Linked DNA regions of Homo sapiens: region 1 is linked to region 2. Evidence: fine-mapped expression QTL. A gene starts in region 2. The other region holds a variant in brackets. All regions are shown on one strand. Distances are between the middles of the regions.

Region 1 (10,729 bases), 390 kb before region 2:
CCATGGAATACTATGCAGCCATAAGAGGATAGGTTCATGTCCTTTGTAGGGACATGGATGAAGCTGGAAACCATCATTCTGAGCAATCTATCACAAGGACAGAAAACCAAACACCGCATGTTCTCACTCATAGGTGGGAATTGAGCAATGAGAACACTTGGACACAAGGTAGGGAACATCACACACCGGGGCCTGTCTTGGGGCGGGGGGAGGGGGAGGGAAAGCATTAGGAGATATACCTAATGTAAATGATGAGTTAACGAATGCGGCACACCAACATGGCACAAGTATACCTATGTAACAAACCTGCAATGTTGTGCACATGTACCCTAGAACTTAAAGTATAATAATAAAAAAAAATAAAAAATAAAAATAAAGAAAGAAAGAAAAAATGTGGTCATATCTGTAGATCTTCTGATTGGCCTTAGAGAAATATATATTAAAAACAAAAATTAAAAATATGCCCAAGATTTAAACTCAGAGTTATTAATTGTGGTTTTATTGATTAGGAAGAAAAATAGAGTGTTAAATGCAGTTTAATGATCTATAGAGTGGATGCCTTAATAAGCTATGGTTTCATTGATGAGAATCTATGCAGCCATTCATAATTATTAAAAGAAAATAGAACAACATAAAAGAAAAATCCTATAGTATGTTGTTAAAGAAAAAGCAAGTTATAAAGTACAATGATTTCATTTTGTTTTTTTAAGCATAAATATATCAATGTAAAAAGTATTTATATTTAATCCTTATCAAATGCTAGTTAAATTCCTGGTACTCTAATGAATGACAAAACTATAATTATATCAAGTGTTCACAGAAAATAAGGATTTACTGGAAAATAAAAAAAATGTACTACACTTGGAAAAAAAAAGGAAGGCAAAGAGCTTTAAATTGCTAATTTGTTGGGGAAAATAATTAAGTTTTCACATTCATGTCACCATAAAAGAGAAAATATATTTCATGATTATGTTGAATAATACCTTTCAATTGTATGGTAACTAAACTATTTATTATATATTAAAATCAACACTGTTATTTGGGCTATTTACTTTTCAATTCTTAAAATCAGATAATAAAATGAAATATAAACTTCACAATAAAATTTCTAAAAGGCAAAAAAAAAAAATAAAGTTTTTAAGTGGCAAATGGGCTCGTTCCTGATTACTGTATAGTTGGATTAAAGACAGCGCTTCTTGTAGAGCTTGCAGAGGATAGCATATATTTTAAATGTCTCCTCTATTTTAACACTGTAGTCGGCACCAGTCTCCCATCACTACATTGATAGGAATAACAGGGAACATTTTAAAGCTGTTTTAGCAAGCCAAGGATGTTCATTTTTAACTAAAATGAAACAAATCATGTCATATTTTCAGAATTCATATTTAGTCCTTCATCAGTTGCTATTTCCAACAATTTATCCTTTAAAGTTGTCATTACGTTTAAATTGTATTTTGATAAAATAAATCAATTCCAGATTTTATACATTGTTAGGATATGATTACTAAACTAAGCTGAAAATATCACAAATTTTAATGTAGTCCTACTGCACATGACTGGTACACAGTTCATACAACATGGGACTCACCATATGAGTTCAGCAACATCCAAACTAATTTTTGTCGTATTCAAGATAACCGGTTCACTGATCACCATTGTTTCAGCAATGTACAATCGCTATAAAATTCTCTAAGTGATTCTTCTCAATTTCTGCACTCATCTTGTGGAGAGGTAATAACAAATAGCTCACGGACTCACACTTATCCATAGACCATACTTTGAGTAGTGCTGTTGTCCTAAGGAGTTAGGTACAAACTTCACCACAAAGACTAAAGACCTGGGAAGACTTAAATATCACTCAGAATAACTCAGAACCTGACAGTTTGTCCTAATAATGAGGCTTTAATGCAAACTGTCACAACTTGTGTCATTTGAGTCCTTCAGGAACCAAACACTGAAATGGTGTTAGGAGTACAAAAGGTTGGGGGCAGGGGGCACTGCTCTGAAAAATAAAATGTTACTTCTCTGATCCTCAGTTTCCTCTTCTGGAAAATAGAAACAATAATGGTATCTATTTCTTAGGTACTATGAGGACCAAATGAGACAATGTGTTTCAATGTTAATCCTAGTGCAAGGCACAGAGTAAACACTTAATAAATGTTAATAAACATTATTAGTAACAGTAGTAGTAGTACTATGTTATCACTATAAAGGAAGAAATTAGAAACTTCTGATGTTGAATTTAGGAAGTTTGTTAAATCTTAGTGTTCAAATTATGAGTAACAAAATTGGCTCCCAAACAATATCAGAATAAAATATTAGAATTCTTTTTATTTTCTGAGTGATAGCATAAGAAAATCACCATCTTACAGATGTCATAACAATAATTGACTTAGGTGAGACTCATTAATAGATTCTGAAATTATTGTGTGAAAGTTTGATGGGGAACAGGATATTTATACCACCTTAAATCATCACAGATTATTTTTGAATTAACTTTATAGTAGATAAATCTGCTAGACATAGAACCAAGTTAACATAGACAGAGAACCAAGTTCTAACTTAGACATAGAACCAACTAGACATAGAACCAAGTTCTGTGTTAACATCACTCATAATGGGGCAAATTGATGTCATGTGCCTCCTTTTGTGATATGCCAGGAAAGACTATAACATTGCTTATGTATTATTCCTGCCAAAAAGGTATTACCTGAATCTGATCCTCAGGAAATATCAAACACACTCAAATTAAGGAATAATATTTTGTTGTTTTTTTTTAAGAGATGAATCTCACTGTGTCATCCAGGCTGGAGGGCAGTGGCGTGATCATAGCTCATTACAGCCTCCAACTCCTTGACTAAAGTGCTCCTTCAGTTTCAGCCTCCTGAGGAGCTGGGACCACAGGGGTGTGCCGCCATGCCCAGGTTTTTTGTTGGTTTTTTTTATTTGTTTTTTGTTTGTTTGTTTTTGGAGGGCCGGAGTCTCACTATGTTGCCCAGGCTACTTTTGAACTCCTGGTACTATGAGTGATCCTCCTGCCTCAGCCTCTCAAAGTGCTGGAATTGCAGGCATGTGCCATCATGGCCAGCTGAATATTCTTTAAACAACAACAACAAAAAACTGGAATGTATTTCAGAATGTTAATGTCATGAAAGAAAAAGAAAAGGCTGAAGAACTAGATTTAAAAAGTAAGAGACATGACAGCTAAAGACAATGCGTGATCCTGGATTGGTTCCCAAATCAATAAAAAAACAACGTTATAAAGAATATTATTGGAGCAATTGAAGAACATTGTAGATAGATTGCATATTGAATAATAGTTTCAAATCAGTATTTTCTGAATTTCATCATTGTACTGTGGTTATGTTATAGCATAGTCTTGCTCCTAGGAGATACAAACTGAAGTATTTAGATTGGTGATAGAGAGGTATTGTCTACAATTTACTCCCAAATAGTTCAGGAAAATTTTTAATAGTAGTATTAATGATAGTAATAATATGTGGAGAGAGATACCAAATGTGGCAAAATGTTTGGTTCATAATTGGCAAATCCAGGTGAAGAGTATATCAGAGTTCATTATATTACTTTGCCATTAAAGTTACCAAAATCGCAATTACTTTTGTGCCAACCTATTATTCTTGCAACTTGTCTATAAATTTGAAATACAAAATAAAAGAAAAAAGCATGAGGAGTCAGGAGATGAGAGGCAGAGCGAGCCTCGGCTGACAGGCAGTTGTTTAGCTTTATGGATAGTTTGCGTACAAGAATTCTTCTGGTCTTGTTTTTTTGACCTTGAGGACCTGGGGTGAAAAAAGTGCCACAGGTTACAGCCTGTGTATTCATAATATTACTTTGCAGAATGTTTTCCATGGTCACTGTCCATAATCCTCCCCAATTTTAAAAAGAAAAGCACAGGCCATACTAATGTTAAGAATTCTAATATCAAGCTTTGTTCCTATATAACATGAATTCAAAGATAACTCTGAATTGGTCCACTTGGCCCTGTTGGAAGCATGTACTCATTAATTAATGTCACTTATTAATTGTTGAGCCAAATGTGGCTGAATCACTCTCCCCCACCCTTCTCTGGTTGGGTATTAAGAGCAAATAGGCAAGTGAAAGCTGGTTTAACACTTAGCCTCACCTCACCCCCTTCCATCTTCTATCCTTGCAGGAGAGCAGGCTTTTCTCACACAGTCAGGAGCTGAGGGATGGAAATCCCTGTATGAAGGCTTAGCCCCACTGAGTGTCATGACCTGCTTATTCAGAAGACAATTGTCAATCCACTCTATCTGATTTAACTTTTCCTCTAAGAATTAGCAAAGTTCCAGAGAACAACAGTTTAGCAGCAAATAAGTTCAACGGAAGTGATTAAAGTTCCATGACATCCTTAGGAAGATAGCCCAATAATGAGAATTGTCTATCTTGAAACCAAGAATGAGAGGAGCAATTGATGCTGTTACCATCACTTTGGTTTGTCTAAATAATCTCAATAAGGAGAATGAATGGGTGATATGGTTTGGCTATGTCCCCACCCAAATCTCATCTTGAACTGTAGCTCCCACAATTCCCGCGTGTTGTGGAAGGTAATTGAATCATGGGATGGGTCTTTCCCATGCTGTTCTCATGATAGTGAATAAGTTTCATGAGATCTGATGGTTTTATAAGGTTGAGTTTCCCTGCACAAGCTCTCTCTTTGCCTATGGCCATCCATGTAAGACGTGCCTTTTGCCATCTGCCATGATTGTGGGGCCTCCCTAGCCACGTGGAACTGTGAGTCGATGAAACCTCTTTTTCTTTATAAATCACCCACTCTCAGGTATGTCTTTATCATACCTGAAAACAGAACACGCAACATGAAAACAGACTAATACAATGGGCTTCTT[C/T]CTCTTTTTGCTGCTTTTTGTTTGTTTGTTTGTTAGTCTGGGTGTTCATGACTATTTGATTCATTTGAAACATGCAGGTGGAGTAGGAAAATTTAAGATAGGTTGTCAGCTCAAAAGTTATTCTAAAAACTCTGCAAAGTTGTATTTGTTCACTCATCTTCACCTGTCTGTGCTTTATTTTCCCAAATGGTTTACATCAAAAAGTGGACTAAAGACAAGATTTCAAAACCTTTCTAGAATTAGCCATTTCAAAAGATAATTGTGAAGAGGCAATGCTTATTTAAGAAATTGGTTTGCCATACTCCTTTAAAAACCCCTTGAAGCCTTGCCACACAATAACATCCCTTAAAAAAATCAATGTTTATAGGCATAATGAAAATAAATATATTTATTTATTACTCCAAGTAAACTCTTCCTGTAAACTACATGTGCTGTAATTCCAAAACTGCCTCCTACCATTCCCACATCAAGACTAACCTGAAGTCCTGGCATGGTGTTTCACACTTATAATTCCAGCACTTTGGGAGGCCAAGGCAGGCAGATCACCTGAGCTCAGGATGTCAAGACCAGCCTGAGCAACATGGCAAAACCCCATCTCTACAAAAAATAGAAAAATTAGCAGGGCATGGTGGCACACACCTGTAGTCCCAGCTACTTGGGCGGGGTATGGGGAAGTGCCTGAAGCAGAAGGATCTCTTGAGCCTGGGAGGTCAAAGCTGCAGTGAACCGTGTTCATGCCACTGCATTCCAAGCCCTGGGCGACAAAGTGAGACCCTGTCTCAAAAAACAAAAACAAACAAACAAAAAAAACACCCGAGTTTTCTGGACTGACTTTTAAGAGTATTCAGGGAAAGAGCTTTGATCCAGTTGATCCAGGGTCCAGAGACTGGATCTTACCAAAAATGTGGGGGTGTGTGGTTCAATGAAGTGCACTGAACCTATATCAATCTATAAAATGGTTGATTTCTGACCTACTAATTATAAGGAAAAGTGAGACTTTTGTTTCTTGTTAGTGAAGAGAGCACCTGGTGGCCATCAAGCTGACCATGCAAAGACTGTGACCTTATCTGAGGAATTTAGAAGTAATTAGACTTCCCCATTATCCAAAGCAGGCATCTGGTTCCAGGCTTCTTTCCCAAAAATTTGTAAGTAATGAGAATTTCTATACATCTCCAGAATGCATGCATGTAGAAACTCATTGTACAACCCTTGCTGACATTAAGGCACCAAAATATCTACAAATGTAATCATTTATCATGACCTACATGGCTTACGTGGTCCAGACTACCCTTATGCTCCCGCTTTAAGGTCCATAGGTACCCCTAAAGAAAAATCCACCATGGCACTCTCAGTCCTCTCTTGCTGAGACAGCCTGCTCCACCCTTCTGCAGCATCCTTTCTATTTAATAAAACTCCTTTTCAAACCTATACTGTTGTCGATAAATCCTTTTACCAACCCATGAGTCAACCACTTTCTGATGCCAGGCCTCTGACACCTCGCCTAGCAGTTGGGAGAACTGTTGGAGGAAAAAAGAAAAGGAATGTGGGAGTACACTGAAAAGTATAAAAATGTAAGGTGTTTTAACACTCTCAGTTGATCCTTAGCTACTGCATGTTGCTAAAGATCATATGGACAATAACTCTTACTTTTAAACTATTCAACTTGGAAATGTTCCGGAAGTTCTCGGCATATTTGAATTTAATTTTCAAATGCTTGAATCTTGTAAATTATTATTATTATTTAGCAGAGTCTTGCACTGTCGCCCATGCTGGAGTGCAATGGTGCAATCTCGGCTCCCTGCAGCCTCTGTCTCCTGGGTTCAGGCGATTCTCCCTCAGCCTCCCAAGTAGTTGGGATTACAGGTATGTGCCACCATACCCAGCTAATTCTTGTATTTTTAGTAGAGATAGGGTTTCACCATGTTGGCCAGGCTGGTCTCGAACTGTTGACCTCAAGTGATTCACCCACCTTGGCCTCTCAGAGTGCTGTGAGTGCAGATATGAGCCAAATATGTACTATTTCTAAAATATGAATGGAAAACTATTTTTCAGAGCTACTTAGACAGAAAGTGTACCTAGATTGCCAACTAGCATCTCCTTTTTATCAGGTTTCTGTTCTTCTCTATGCATCTCATATGTTGTAGCTCTAGAAAAATATAAATATTGTTTTGTGTGTGTGTGTGAACAATGACCCCAGAAAGAAATCTAGCTGCTGGTGCAAGTAGTAAAAGTGAAGAGATCAAATGGAAAATGTAATTAAAGGATAAATCTTAGTATGAAAATATGATTTGTAGATAAATCAGAAAATGTAATGTAGAATTCCATATTAGCTAAATCTAAGACATAAATGAGTTCACATATACAGAAGAATTATCTACTGATGATTCTAGCTAGTGCCAAAATTGTTTATCACATGAATAATTTCACAAAAAAAGTTTGTACAAGTCTGAATTGCTGTTGAATCCTTTCTAAAACATCGTGTGTTTCCTATGCAAAGTTTCACACCACATATTAACCTTTTTTTTTAAACTCCCACCAGTGTAGGAGTTATAAAACAATTAAAAGGCTGAAGTCAGGGTGGAGGGATTACAGTTCTCAGTAATGTTTTTCCTAAATTTTATGCCAATAATTAGGTGCTATATCTTATAAATTTAAGGATTTGAAAATGTTTTTATATGATTTCTTATAAGGCCAGGCTCTACTGAATTTTCAGCATTGTAGGTAAGCTAGGCCACTGTTATGAAAAAATCAAATAGTTTAAACAAACAGCTCATTGACTGATGAGCTTTCAGCCCTCTCTTTGACTATGTCTTTTGCCATATGACTTCGTTGTTCCTCCCATCAGCAGGAAGAGTATATTTTCCCACCCCTTGATTCCAAGTTTGATCACTTCACTTGTTTTGGCCAGTGGGGTAATAGTAGATGTGATACAAGAAGAGGCTTAAAAATGTGGACTTGCCGTGTTGTGCTTCTGCCATCCCAGTAAGAAGGATAAGCCCAGCTAGCACAGTGTCCCAGCAGGAGGATGAGGGACCCATGGAACAAACCTGAGTTGTCCAGCCAAGATGACCCTCAACTCACAGCTGACTCATGGCCCATTCCCTAGGTACATGAGTGAACCCAGCCAAGATCAGCAGGTAGTACAACTTAGCCGAACCCTTCAGGCTCCAGAGAAATAAACATATATTGCTGTATTCACCTGCTCAGGCTGCCATAACAGAATACCACAGGCTGGGTGGTTTAAACGACAGAAATTTGTTTTCTCACAGTTCTGTAGGATAGAAGTTCAAGATCTAGTTGCCGTCATGTTGGTTTCTGATGAGGCCTCTCTTCCTGGCTTGCAGATGGCCACCTTCCCACCATGTCCTCCTCACATGGCCTCTCCTCTGCACATGCACAGAGTAAGTGAGATCTCAGTGTTTCTCTTCCTCTTCTCATAAGGATACCAGTCCTACTGGATGAGGGCCCCAGTTTTACATGCCATATAACCTCAATTACTTCCTAAAGGCCCTATCTCCAAATGCAGTCACATTGAGGGTTAGGGCCTCAACATAGGAATTTTGGGGGCATTCAATTGAATCCGTAACAATTGTATGACACACAACAATTTGATGGTACTAACTGCCACATTCAGTAAAAATATATAACGGAGAAGTGAGTTTGGCTTCTTGGAAAATGTTAATTCTCTAAGACATAATGAGAATATTTTATCAAAGTAAAAAATTTAGATTTGCTTTACTTCCAATATATAAGCTACCTATCCACTGGAGCATGGTCTAAAAGTGACATTGTTGAAGTACAAGGAATTATTTCTACAGGATAAGTTTGTTTTCGTTTTTTGGGTGTATGTAAGTCCTACTGGGGAATTTATCTTTAAATAATATTATAGATCCTGTATAAAGTGAATTTTTTAAATTCTGAAAATGACTGCATTTAGAAGACACAAACATTTACAAAGAAAAAATATCTTACTCAAAGAACAATATAATATTAATCTTGGTCCAAAAGAACATAAGAATATAATCTTATTAAAATGTCAAAAGAGCCTTCTGCTTATTAGTGGAAAAATCCTATCAGTACTTACAATCTTTAAGGACATGCTGTTTTTAGTGAAGTCAAGAGCAAGTCTTTCTTTCACTTTTTAATACATTAAAAGTCACAGGCTTTTTATAAATTTAACTCTCAAGCTTACTAGCAGTCATTTGCAGCTCATTTCTGTTAGATTCAATTTATCTTTTAATTAGGAAACCAGAGCCATTTCTGAATACTCCTGAAATTAATGAAAGACTCTTTTTTTTCTATAATGCTGCATACCTGTTTGAAGGTATACATTTGTGCAACAAGAGAGTAATGAACATCTGATAATGCAGTACTATCGGGGTATTCATCTGAGGCTTCTATAATGCATCAAAACTATTTTGCTTTATTAAATTATTTTGTATATCTCAAAGACTGCATATTACAGAGTTCCACTGACTATGCAGAAATCAAACTCACTTATTCTTTTCATCCATAGATCCTCATAACATGTTGTTTTAAATATTTTAATAAAGCACTTCTAACAATTTTTGTAGTTGTCCAAGGTGAGTGAGTATGATGGAAGTCAATTAAAGTTTTTTTTTTTACAAATGGGAAGCAAAATTTCATAGTAGCTTGTATAAGAAATGATTTGATTTGTACTCCAATTTGAAAATTGAAATTTAAGATATTACTAAAAATTTATCATTTAACAAAATTCTGGTTATAACTGCAACTCTTTAATTATTAAAATAAATAAAGACTGAATCAAATGTTGATTGGGATTTTTGTTATATAAAATTTTTATGACAAAATTGTTAGGTGCTAAATGCAATGCTGTAGCCTGGATTTGATCCTAGAAGAGAAAAAGGACATTCGTGGAGAAAAATCAGTGAAATCTGAATACAATCGGGGGTGTAGTTAATAGTAATATACCAATGTCAGTTTCTTAGTTTTGACAAATATACCATGGTAATTTAAGATGTTAACATTGGAGAAAACTAGATAAGGGATAGGCAGGAACTCTGTATTATCTTTGCACTATAAATCTAAAATTATTCTAAAATAAAATTTATTAAAAATTATTAGATGACCTGATATGATATTCTTCATTCAGTTTAGCAGCACAGTCATAAAGAGATTCATCTCTGCAGAAATATGTGAAGGCTGTACCAATTTTCCCAAGAGCCTCTCTTAATCCCCTGAAACACAAATCTTCCTTTCTTGAAAGCACACAATCCTTGTCATAATCCTCGTAGATTTTCTCTTCTTTAACAGTAACTGCTCTTGAGTCTGCCATATCCTCACTGTCTATGACTTTCCATTTTGTCCATCACTTTGCTCAATTAAATGAAGTCTAACATCCTTTGCAATATTTATGATTGCACTTCGTAGTCAATATGTGCTCCCCACCCCTTCTCATAGCACTTGAAAGGAAAATGCCTGTTAAAAGATGATAGACTCTAGAGTGAAGATGGGAGAGAAGTTGGAGGGCAGGCTAATTTTCTAAGTAGTCAGTTTTTTTTTTTTTAACAAAATGGCCTACATAACCTTATAACTATAGGAACACCGGTAATATTTGGAAGGCAAAGAACCTTATGTTTCTACTTTTCCTGTAATATAAATATATAAAGAATTGAAGAAATAAAGCAGCTAATGAGAATTGGCAGCCAATTAAAAAAGAAAAAAGACTCAAGAAAGATGCAAACAAGAGGCACAAACTATGTACAGAGATTTTCTTCCTTCTGTGGAGCACTGTGTCATAAGAAAGACTCCCAGAAACAGATGACAAAAATGGCCAACTTTCAATCTTCCCATAGTTATGT
Region 2 (10,686 bases):
GAATAAAGATATCGCTTTTGCAACCTAAGAGTCATTTAAGTTTTAAACTTTCAAAGACCTGAGATTTGTGATTTTTTTTCCCCTTATCTTTCCAGTTCTGCTTCTAGAATTTCCCCCCATGTATCTGCATCCATTGGGTACATGATTTTTTCTGGTAGGCTAATGGGAGAACAAATGTTGCTGTATCTGCCACTTAGCCATTCGTGTTTCACTTTACTCTTCTGGTAATTCCTCAGCAGTATCACCTGAAAGAGGTAAATCACCGTTAAAAAAGACTGTAGTAGGTGGTTGGTTAGTGAATGTGTTTAAAGCAAGAGAAGCAGATTGACAGGGCTGAAAAAAAGAGTATTTACATTTATATATACGTACATTAATAAATGTATGTGTCTGTGTACGTGTGTGTATGTATATGTGTATTTATACTGAGTGGCATAAGGTGAAGTGGAAAGAAGGAGCTAATTCCCTTCTGGTTAACGCAGGAAAATTCCCGAATTTAGAATTTTAAAAATGCAAAAGGATAAATGAAAGATAGTGTGGAAACAGTGTGGTTAGCAGGAAAAGACTAATAACTTTAACTCATTTCCAAGAGTCAACACACTGTCTGTGTTATTCTGCATATGTAATTCTGACTCCTCCAAGCAGAAGTTAGAATTGGCGCAAACCTGCTATCATAACGCTGTCAACAACACTGCAGATCGCAAAGATTAAACTTACCCTCCAGGAATAACCACTTTCTAGATCATCATCTATTTCTCTTCGGCACACAGCTCTTACAGTCATGCAGTGAGGTTTCCATAAAGAGTCACTGTTTCTTATTGTGTCATTCCAGCTCCTGCATGTCAATGAAGCCCTGCACAGACTCCGAATGTCCAGCTGACTGAAAATTTTAAAAGTGATTTCTGCAGGCAGCAGTTCAAAAAAGTTGTTTTGACTCTCATTTTTTTCCTTCTCAGCATCCACAGAGTTCGCTTCTGTGTGAGAAACTCTTAAATTATTGTTTCTCTTGGAGTTTTTATGCATAGCTTAATGTTTTAAGTTATCCTCATATGTAACCTAAAAGGCAAAATTTAAACATGCTCAGTCTCCAAATAGGAGTATAAATCCTACTTTAAGTCAGATGCTTTTTGGGTATAATTTAAGAACTCTTTCTTGACTTTAGCTTCTCAATCTGTAAAATGGGCCAATGCTGCCGCTCTCCTGAAAGTTCTTGCAAGGATTAACAGTGATAGTGGGTAAAATATCTAGTCTTGCTACATCTGAATTGCACATGGGAGGCACCCAACATGTTAGTTTCACTCTCACCCAGGCTGGAGTGCAGATGTGTCATAATAGCTCACTGCAGCCTCAAACTCCAGCCTCAAGCGATTCTCTTGACTCAGCGTACCCCGCCCCTCTTTAAAAAAAAAAAAAAGAAAAAAAAAAAAACAGAAAACCAAAAACTGTTTTACGGAGAAATGGTTCTTGCTATGTTGTCCAGGCTGGTCTTGAACTCTTGTCCTCAAGCAATCCTTCTGCCTCAGCCTCCCAGAGTGCTGGGATGACAGGTATGAGCCACCATACCCGGTACTTTTGTACCTTTGAAAATGTATATGAGTCAATCCTATTAAACTCCTGAATACTTGTTGTACATGGGAACTGATGCCTCATCATTAATTTGCAATTTGTGACTTAATCATAAACTTGCTGGACTTCTAGTTGTTTATATAAGAATTTTATCTACTTGTATCTTATAGGTAGGTAGGTGCTTACATTTGACACAACTACTATCTGAAATGGACAAGAAGATGAGATCTGGATTATGAAACAAAGTCTCAAATATTCAACTCAGTCATAAGAGTAGTGTTTTAGAAATGGCCCCTTGAAGCTATCCTACATGCATAATTACAAGCTAAGGATAATAGTCACTGAAGACATCAAGCAACAGTGAGTGACAACTGTAAACAATGTTTAGAACTCAGCTAGGTACAGTATGTGACTCTTTGAAGCCCAGATTTAAAGCTCAGTTTCAGCTAATTTACCTAAGGTGAATGGTGTAGGCTTCCCAAATCAGTTGAAAGCATGACTGGGTACATCACCATCCTTGAGTTACTTTTGTATATAAAGACAGCTTGTATTCACTTAAAATCAGTTTATTCCATTTTGCACTTCCTTTTATAACGGGGGTTGGTTGTGCAAGAGGAGAGGTTTGAGGTAAATACTTCTTTTAACTCAGCTGAACACAAATCTCTTTTCTAGACGAGCTACTCAGCTATGTTTTCGGACTTGCCAAGACCACGGTGGCTCCCATTCATGATCCAGATTAGCTGTGGTGGCTGGAACTGCAGTCTGTGTTCAACAGAGGTCTTCTTCTTGAGGGTTAGGAGAAGTAAGAAAGCAAACGTAAAAACGGGTGAGTCAAGAGCAAGTTTTTGCCATGCACCTTGGCCCCTCCCACCACCAATACAAACCAAAGCCAAACCACAACGTTCTTGAAAAGAATCTCACATTAGGAAAACGTTACAGTGCATTTAAACGTTACAGTGTGTTTATCCACTTCTCCCAGGATCTTACTGGGAGAATAAAATGCGTCCCCTTGTGGAATTCCTGTAACGGGAATGAAGGCTTTTGAATTTCACAGCAGGGGATACCTTTGCGAGTTTCTAAAATCCCACTAGGAATCTTTCTTCTACGTCCAGGTTCGCCTGGATGCCTGGAAACGACCCCTCTTCTGCCCTTTCTCCTTTATGAACTGAGCTTTCCTGAATTCTCTCTCAAGTGAAGTAAAAGCTCGTCCCCCTTTCAACTATCATTCGGAGGGATAGATCGGCGGCAGCGCAGTCGGAGGGGCGGGGAGCCCCACTCCGTCCAAATCCCGCGGGTCAGGGCTAATCACCCCACGTCCCGTCTGAGCCACCCTCCTTGTGTCCCGCGCGGGTTGCAGCTGCTGGAACCCAAGAACACAGGGCACTGACAAGTGACAACAACCGTCAGCGTTGACTGTCACTGCGGCTCCAGGCCGCGGAGGGAAGGCTGAGCTTGCGTCCAGGCCGCGTCCCCGGGAGCGTAGACACCTAAGCCAACGGGAACGGAAGACCCTTCTACCTACTAGGCCGCGGTAGCTTCTCCTCCCGCGATTTAAATCCACCGGAATTCGAATCCTTCCCCATAGCTCTTCGCATCCCGCCCACCTGAGTCCCGCCCTGCTCAGAACTCGCGCAGGCGCCGAGAGGGGCGCGCAGTGCCTTTGGGGATTGGTAGTTTTTTCCAGGGCGTCTCCGCTCGGGAAAGGAAGTGAAGAAAGCCACCAGGACTACAAGGCCCGGCGTCCTCCAAGATGGGAGGGAGGTGAAAAGGGTGTTGGGGAATAAGCCGGGGTTTTTAAACAGTAGTTTTGAGGCGGCGAGACTGGGGAATCCCCGGTTGCGTCATTAGTAGGCGTGGAGGGGCGGGACTCGTGAAGCTGCGCTGGGGCCGGGCTCTGAGAGGACCGGCGCAGCCGCGGGGAGCCTTTGAGGCCCTCCCTCGGTGTTTTTTCCCAGGGCGTGGGCTTGCCCCGCGCGTGTCTGTGGAGGGCGGAAACAGCGGAGGGGCCAGTCTCCTGGCGAAGGGGCCTAATCCTTGCCCGCCATGTCCGGGGGCTTCGAGCTGCAGCCGCGGGACGGCGGTCCCCGGGTGGCCCTGGCGCCCGGGGAGACGGTGATCGGCCGCGGGCCGCTGCTGGGAGTAAGTGTGGGCGGGGGCTTAGCGGACCCCGAGAGCCGTGGAGTTCCGCGCCGGCTCCTGAAGACCGGCCCTAGTCCTGGCCGGTTTCCCCACCGCACTGGTCCGCCGGTCCGGATTTTAGAAGTTTGGGGCCGCACGTTTTTCAGTTACCTTTAAGCCAATTCACAAACATTTCTTTATGTTGCTTTTAAAACACTGACTGTATTACCATTATTATCTTATCCAGGGATTGGCAAACTAGTGCCTGGGGGCCAAATCCAGCCTATGTTTGTATGGCCCCATGAACTAAGAATGATTCTTAAATTCTGAAATGTAAAATGTAAACAAAAAATCTACTAATTTTTCAGGGGGAATAGTTGCTCCAAGGGTTGAGGGTATTGCGGCTTGTCTTGTAAAGCCTAAAATATTTACAGTAGTGTCTGGTCCTTTACAGAAAAGTTTGCCAAACTGTGATATTACGTCTTCTAGGCTAATTTCTTTTAACCTTTGGTCTCCTTTGCAGAGCTGTGTGGACCTTATTTATTTATATTATTTATTATTTCCAGTAAAATGAGTAGCTAACCCTTCATAAGTAATGTGTATAGCGTTCGTGTCATTGGTCTAAGGAGACATTACCTATACCAACATCTTTAACTGTCTCAAGACCGTATCAGTTAGCTATTTTTATTATCCTCATTGTTCAGATGAGAAAATTGAGCCATACATACATTATTTAAAGTCCATACATAAGCTTTTGGACACATAATGCCACAAAGCTAAATATTCTCTACCTTCTTTGGGAGAGGTTTAGGAATAAGAACATTTGCATATTGCATTCTGGAATTCTATAGATCTCTTAAGTACATCTAGTTTTCTATTTTGTTCTTTAACATTCAACATTTCTTGTTTGGTGCTCACTGTGTAGAACATTTTGCAGATTCTAGCACTGTGGGGCATACAAAGATGAATGGAACATGGGTCCCTACCCTTTAGGAGTTTTCTCTTGGGACCGGGGAGACACCTGTGTCAGTGAGCTAACACCAAGGAGTAAGGAGTGTGTACTGTTGTCCTGGTTAACTTCCAGAGTCTAAATGGAACCATTGGTACTTGCCTTAGGTCCCTTCTGGGAGCAGGGAAAGGAGTGGTAGTTTAAGATTGTATTATGGAAGCTGGTCCTAAAGGGGTGTGTGTGTGTGTGTGTGTGTGTGTGTGTGTTGTGTGTTGTGTGTTGTGTACATGCACATGTGCATGTGGTAAGGTTATTGAGGAAGTAGATATTCAATTGCTGTTCATTTTTTTACTGGACAAGTGATTATTTAAATATTTAACATCATTTCTATTTTTTTCATCGTTTGTTGGCCTATACAAACACTGGAAGGAACTGTCTGGAGGCTTTATTTTTCTTTTAAATTCGTAGGTTTGAAACTTAAGAGTATGTGCTTAATCTAGTAATCATATGTCTGGTGACTAACGAGTTTTGACTTGCTTAAGAAATTGTCACCAGTAGAGTACTGTGGGTCTGGTTAAAAGGTGGATGAATTTTAGGGCCGTGGTTTAGAAACATGGCAACAGATTGCAGACCGTTTCATTATTTGTAGCTTGTTCTTTGTGTTGTCGACTTGCTAATGTGAGATGAGCCTATTTGGTATCTGTTTTTAAAAATGGTAAGGAGTGAAAGCTGGGCAATTACCTGGTCAAGATTTTGCTTTTCCTTTTGAAATAACATTCAGGGATGAGATTCTTTTGCCAAGGTTGGCGTGTATCAGAAGTGGTTATGAATGACATCCTAAGTGTGTTAAAGGAAAAATTTGGAGAACAAACAAATCGCCTTGTAGTTTTTTCGATTTTGGAGCTGACAGATGCACTCGATTCTTCTCTGCACTGGTTAAAACACAACATAAGGGCTCCTGTTTCCAACAACAGCAATTCCAGTGAGATTTATTTTTGTATTGTGAGAGAGCGAAGACTGAGTTCTAAGTGGAAAACTCAGTAAGTTCATTGTAAATTGGAATCGGAAACGATTAATATAAATAAGGATGATTTTGAACTTTCTTAATTGGGCATGTTTTTCTGAGACAAGCTTCACAAACCTTGATGGCCACACAAACATAAAAGTTTATAATCTGACTGTGTAAAATAGTCTTGGTAGTAAAACAGTTTGACAATGAGAATGGTTTTGTATTTTTATGGTGGTAGGAAAACACAACAGAGAAACCTGTCACAGAGAACAAAGGACAATGAAATTTAATCTTTCTTGTTCCCTTTGCTTTCATGTGAGTCATCAGAGAACCCCAGGTCTTTGTTTACTAGATTTTGATTCTGCTCCATGATTGGCATCAGTTAGAAGGTTTTACAGCAGGATTAATCTTCAGAGAACTTGAGTTAAAACAGCCAATCCAAAAGATTACATATTGTGTGATTCCATTTATATAACATCATTGAAATTGCGAAATTGCAAAATTTCAAAAATGGAGAACAGATTAGTGGTTGCCAAAGGTTAAAAAATTAGGCAGCAGGGCAGAAGGGAATGGATATGGCTATAAAATAGCAACATGAGGGATATTTGTGGTGATAGAAATGTGCTTTGTCTGGACTGTGTCAGTATCAATATCTTAGGTTGATATATTGTACTATAGTTTTGTAAGACGTTACCATTAGGGGAAACTGGATAAATGGTACAAGAGATATTTCTATATTATATCTTTCAACTACATGTGAATCTACCATTATCTTAAGAAATTTAATTTAAAAGGGTTTTACAGTACGACATGTCAAGCACTGTTAGGCCAAAGTATTTGCTTTATGGGTTTTAATTAAAGCTGTTACACTCTTAAATGAAATCTACTATTTCTGATTTCAGATTTTTCTTATTTTGTTTTGACAGCAGGGATTATATGACACATTTCTTTATGATCTATTTTCCTCCTAGGAAACAAGATAGCAAAAGATATCTAGTGATACTTTCTCAATGTAGATGTAATTAAATTGACTGCTTTGATTAAAAGGAGAAGAGTCCTCAGTTGGGGGAACAGGGAAGGTCATAGGCTTCAGTATAGACTCTTCAGGTGGCATCAGTTCACCACTTCTAAGAATGTTGTAAATGTTCTACAAAGTTTACACAAAGTAACCATCCCCTGACCTGGCAGCTCTATACTTTTAACTGCTTGTTGCAGAATCCTGGCTGTCCTGGAATGCTGTTCCTACCTGCTCCAACATAGGTTTCTTCCCTTACGTTTCTTTTATTTCTAGATTTGCCCTTCCCTCATTTTATTATTTAGCCTACAACCAGTGCCTAGCACACAGTAGGCCTTTAACACGTGATTTCTTCCTTCCATTTCGGCATCTCAGCCTCTCATTCACTCTACCCTCAAAAAGAGCCTAATTGTGACTTAGATATGAAAAAGGGTTATCATTGAGTTTTGAAGTGAATTTAAATATAGTAAAGATGCAGTCCTACCAACTGCTAAATCTTGAGTAGCATTCATAATGAATTAAGTTTTAACATTTTTCCTGTTTTGTTGATTGATAATTCGCTAAATTCAGGAAATAGCTGATAAATATATACTATGGTTGGATGGGAGGGAGTATAGGAGAAATAAAGGTGAATGAGAAACAAGTCTTTGCTCTCAAGAAACTTATAGTTTTGTAGGGTTAAGAGACAAATAAACAAGTATTAGTAACTAAATAAGGCTACAACCTCACATGGGGACTGGCGCCAGGCTGACACTTGGAGTAAGCGAAGTGGGAGGGAAGAAGAAAAACAACACAGGGACAGTGATAAATGACAACAGTTCTGCCTCAGTGTTGGGAAGGCCACAAGGAGAGGGTCTCTATGCAATCCCTGCTACTTTCCCCTATTCCCAGTTGGTAACAGTGTCATATTGTTTTTTTAAGAATAGTAAGAAATTTGAATTTTTAGATATAATCACTGATTTTTAAAAGGTCACATTTTTATTAAAAGTTTTGGTTAAATACCATGAGTCTGTTGATGAAGAGTTAAATTCTATAAAATATTTCAAGAGATTTATTCTGAGCCAAATATGAGTGACCATGGCCCGTGACACAGCCCTCAGGAGGTCCTGAGAGCATGTTCCCAAGATGGTCAGGGTACAGCTTGGTTTTTATATATTTTAGGGAGGCATGAGACATCAATCAAATACATTTAAGAAATACATTGGTTTGGTTCAGAAAGGCAGGACAACCCAAAGCAGGGGCTTCCAGGCTATAGGTAAATTTAAACATTTTCTGGTTGACAATTAGTTGAGTTTATCTCAAGACCTAAGATCAAAGGAAATGTTCAGGTTAAGATAAAGGATTGTGGAGACGAAGTTTTATTTTGCAGAGCTCTCAGATAGCGGACTTCAGAGATAGCAGGTTGTAAAATGTTTCTTATGAGACCTGAAAGAGTGCCTGGCTCTTAATTGATTATCTCCTGGATCTGGAAAGGAAGGAAGGAAAACAAAGGGGAAAGGGAATTCTCTATAGAATGTGGGTTTTTCCCACAAGAGACTTTGCAGGACAGTTCCAAGGTATGGCAAAGAAATATATTTTAGGGTAAAACATTTTGATTTTCTTCCTTGTTATGCCTGAGTCAGACTGGAAAGTAAGTCACGTTATACAGGGTTAAATAAAACTCATCTGATGAGAATTTATGGTTTGTAGGGCATGACTCCCCAGACCCCTTAGAAAGGAATTTGGGCAAGATAAAAAAAAATAATAATCAGAGCTTAGTCCTCAAGCTAGACAGAATGATGTCACAGGGTACAGAGAGGTATAAGAAGGAACCTGAAGTTAAGAGGTGGGATCAGGGAAAGAAAGCTTCATGAACTTGGTAGCATGTTGAGTTTGACTGTGGTGTGTTGGGACAGTTAGAATTTTGGTAGGTGGAGTGGGTGGTGTAAGGAAGGGCTTGCGTGGTTTAAGGCTCTAAGATATGGTGTGTTGGATAATTGGGTAGGTGTTGACCAGGCTTGTGGGATGATCACATTATGTCAATGATCCCGTTTAACTTTTACAAACATTGTTTTTTAATATATTAGTTTTTAAAATAGACTTTATTTTATGGAGGAGTTTTAGGTTCACAGCAAAACTGAGTGGAAAGTACAGAGAGTTCCCATATACTCTCTGCCCTCTTACATGTACAGCTTCCCCGACTATCAACATTCTACACAGTATGGTATGTTTGTTGGAATTGATGAATCCACATTGACATGTCATTATCACCCAAAGTTCATGGTTTACACTGGGGTTAACTCTTGGTATTGTACATCTTATGGGTTTTGACAAATGTATAATGACATTTATCTACCATTGCAGTATAACACAGAGTTGTTCCACTGCCCTAAAATTTTCTGTGCTCTGCCTATTCATCCCCCAGAGGCTCCCCAGGACCCCTGGCAACTACTGAATTCTTTTACTTTCTCCATGGTTTTGCCTTTTTCAGAATGTCATAGAGTTGGAGTCATACAGTACATAACCTTTTCAGGTTTCACTTAGTAATATGTATTTAAGGTTCCTCCAAGTCTTTTCATGGCTTGATAGCTCATTTCTTTTTAGTGATGAATAATATTCCATTGTCGGTTTATCCATTCACCTACTAAAGGTCATCTTGGTTGCTTTCAAGTTTTAGTGATCATGGATAATACAACTACAAACATTTGGGTGCAGATTTTTGTGTGAACGTAGGTCTTCAACTCATTTAGGTAGATACTAAGGAGCACAGTTGCTGGATTGGATAGTAAAGTTGTATAGTAATAGTATGTTTAGTGTTGTAAGAAACCGCCAAACTGTCTTCCAGAGTGGCTGTACTATTTGCATTCCCACCAGCAATGAGTGACAGTTCTTGTCACTGGACATCCTTATCAACATTTGGTGTTATCAGTGTTTTAAATTTTGATCATTCTAATAGATGTGAGGTAAATCACTTTTCATATGTATATTTTGAGTGGACAAAAATACAGCAGTCAACACAGAAGACTCCTGTGATTGAATATGTGGTTATTTCTCCCTACCAACAAGCAAGCGGTCACTTTTACAGCAGACATCAACTGGGTGTCCTCTAATTCAATTTAATTCTGACACCATCTATCTGGAGATAGCATCAGCTCCCACATGTTGAGGGCTCAGTTCCCAAGATTTCCCCCCACTTCTGATGGCAATTGCAAGCCCCAAGTTGTTTTACCTGTGCTTCTGAACCACTGGATGTAAACCAGGGATCCCATGGCCCTTTCCTTGGGCTCTATTAATTTGCTAGAGCAGCTCCTAGAACTGGTTTGTTATAAGGGATATGACAAAGGATACAGATGAGGAGATGCATAGGGTAAGCTATGGGAAGGGATACTGAGCTTCCATGCTCTCACCAAGTGTGCCACCCTCCAGAAACCTCTACATGTTCACCTGTTTGGAAGCTTTCCTAACCCTGTCCCCTTTGGGTTTTTATGGAGTCATCGTTATTTAGTCATGATTGATTAAACCATTGGGCATTAGTGATCAGCTAACCTTTAGCCCCTCTCGTCTCCCTAGAGGAGGCTGGGGCTTGGGGCTGAAAGTCCCAATTCTCTATACCTTGGTCTTTCCAGTGACTAGCTCCCACCCTGAAGCTATCTAGGGGCTGCTAGATGTCACTTAACTCATTAGCATACAAAAAGACATCACTTGGGAGATTCTGAGGATTTTAGTGGTTATGCCAGGCAACAGGGACAAAGACTATATTTTACAATTATATATATCTTCCCCTGAATTAATGCCTTCAAATTTTCATCCCCCATTTACTACTTACCATGAATATGCTATCTTCTCACATGTCTTCATACTTTTGTATGAGTTCCTTTCTTTGGTAATTTGGTTCTGTAGGTAGTGTCTGGGTATCTGTATTTTTTTGAGATGGAGTTTTGTTCTTGTTGCCCAGGCTGGAGTTCAATGGTGCGATCTTGGCTCACCACAACCTCTGCCTTCTGGGTTCAAGAGATTCTCCTGCCTCAGCCTCCTGAGTAGCTGGAATTATAG

Which allele goes with the higher level. Positions count from the first base shown, and alleles are read on the strand shown. Sizes are in standard deviations (SD) of each study's normalised expression.
For the expression in transverse colon of the gene that starts at base 3,169 in region 2, T is the high allele of the variant in region 1 and C is the other (large effect, 1.1 SD a copy in GTEx).

The links. PIP is the estimated chance that this variant, and not a neighbour inherited with it, causes the effect.
Region 1: its variant is fine-mapped to the expression of FBXO48 in transverse colon (GTEx, PIP above 0.99).

The regions. Positions count from the first base shown.
Region 1 is chr2:68,069,537-68,080,265 of GRCh38, forward strand. No RefSeq gene overlaps it. Among named protein-coding and RNA genes, the nearest start is that of C1D, 12 kb to the left of the region's middle. The variant C/T (reference allele first, on the strand shown) is at 4,887.
Region 2 is chr2:68,464,126-68,474,811 of GRCh38, forward strand. It overlaps FBXO48 (F-box protein 48), which reads right to left and starts at 3,169. Exons shown (of 4, transcript NM_001024680.3): 1 at 3,086-3,169; 2 at 2,019-2,345; 3 at 715-1,053; 4 at 1-245. The coding sequence starts at 1,020. The coding sequence ends at 84. APLF (aprataxin and PNKP like factor) reads left to right here and starts at 3,460. Exons shown (of 10, transcript NM_173545.3): 1 at 3,460-3,702. The coding sequence starts at 3,607. RefSeq lists enhancers at 2,250-2,309, 2,403-3,298, 3,299-4,193 and a silencer at 3,535-3,744.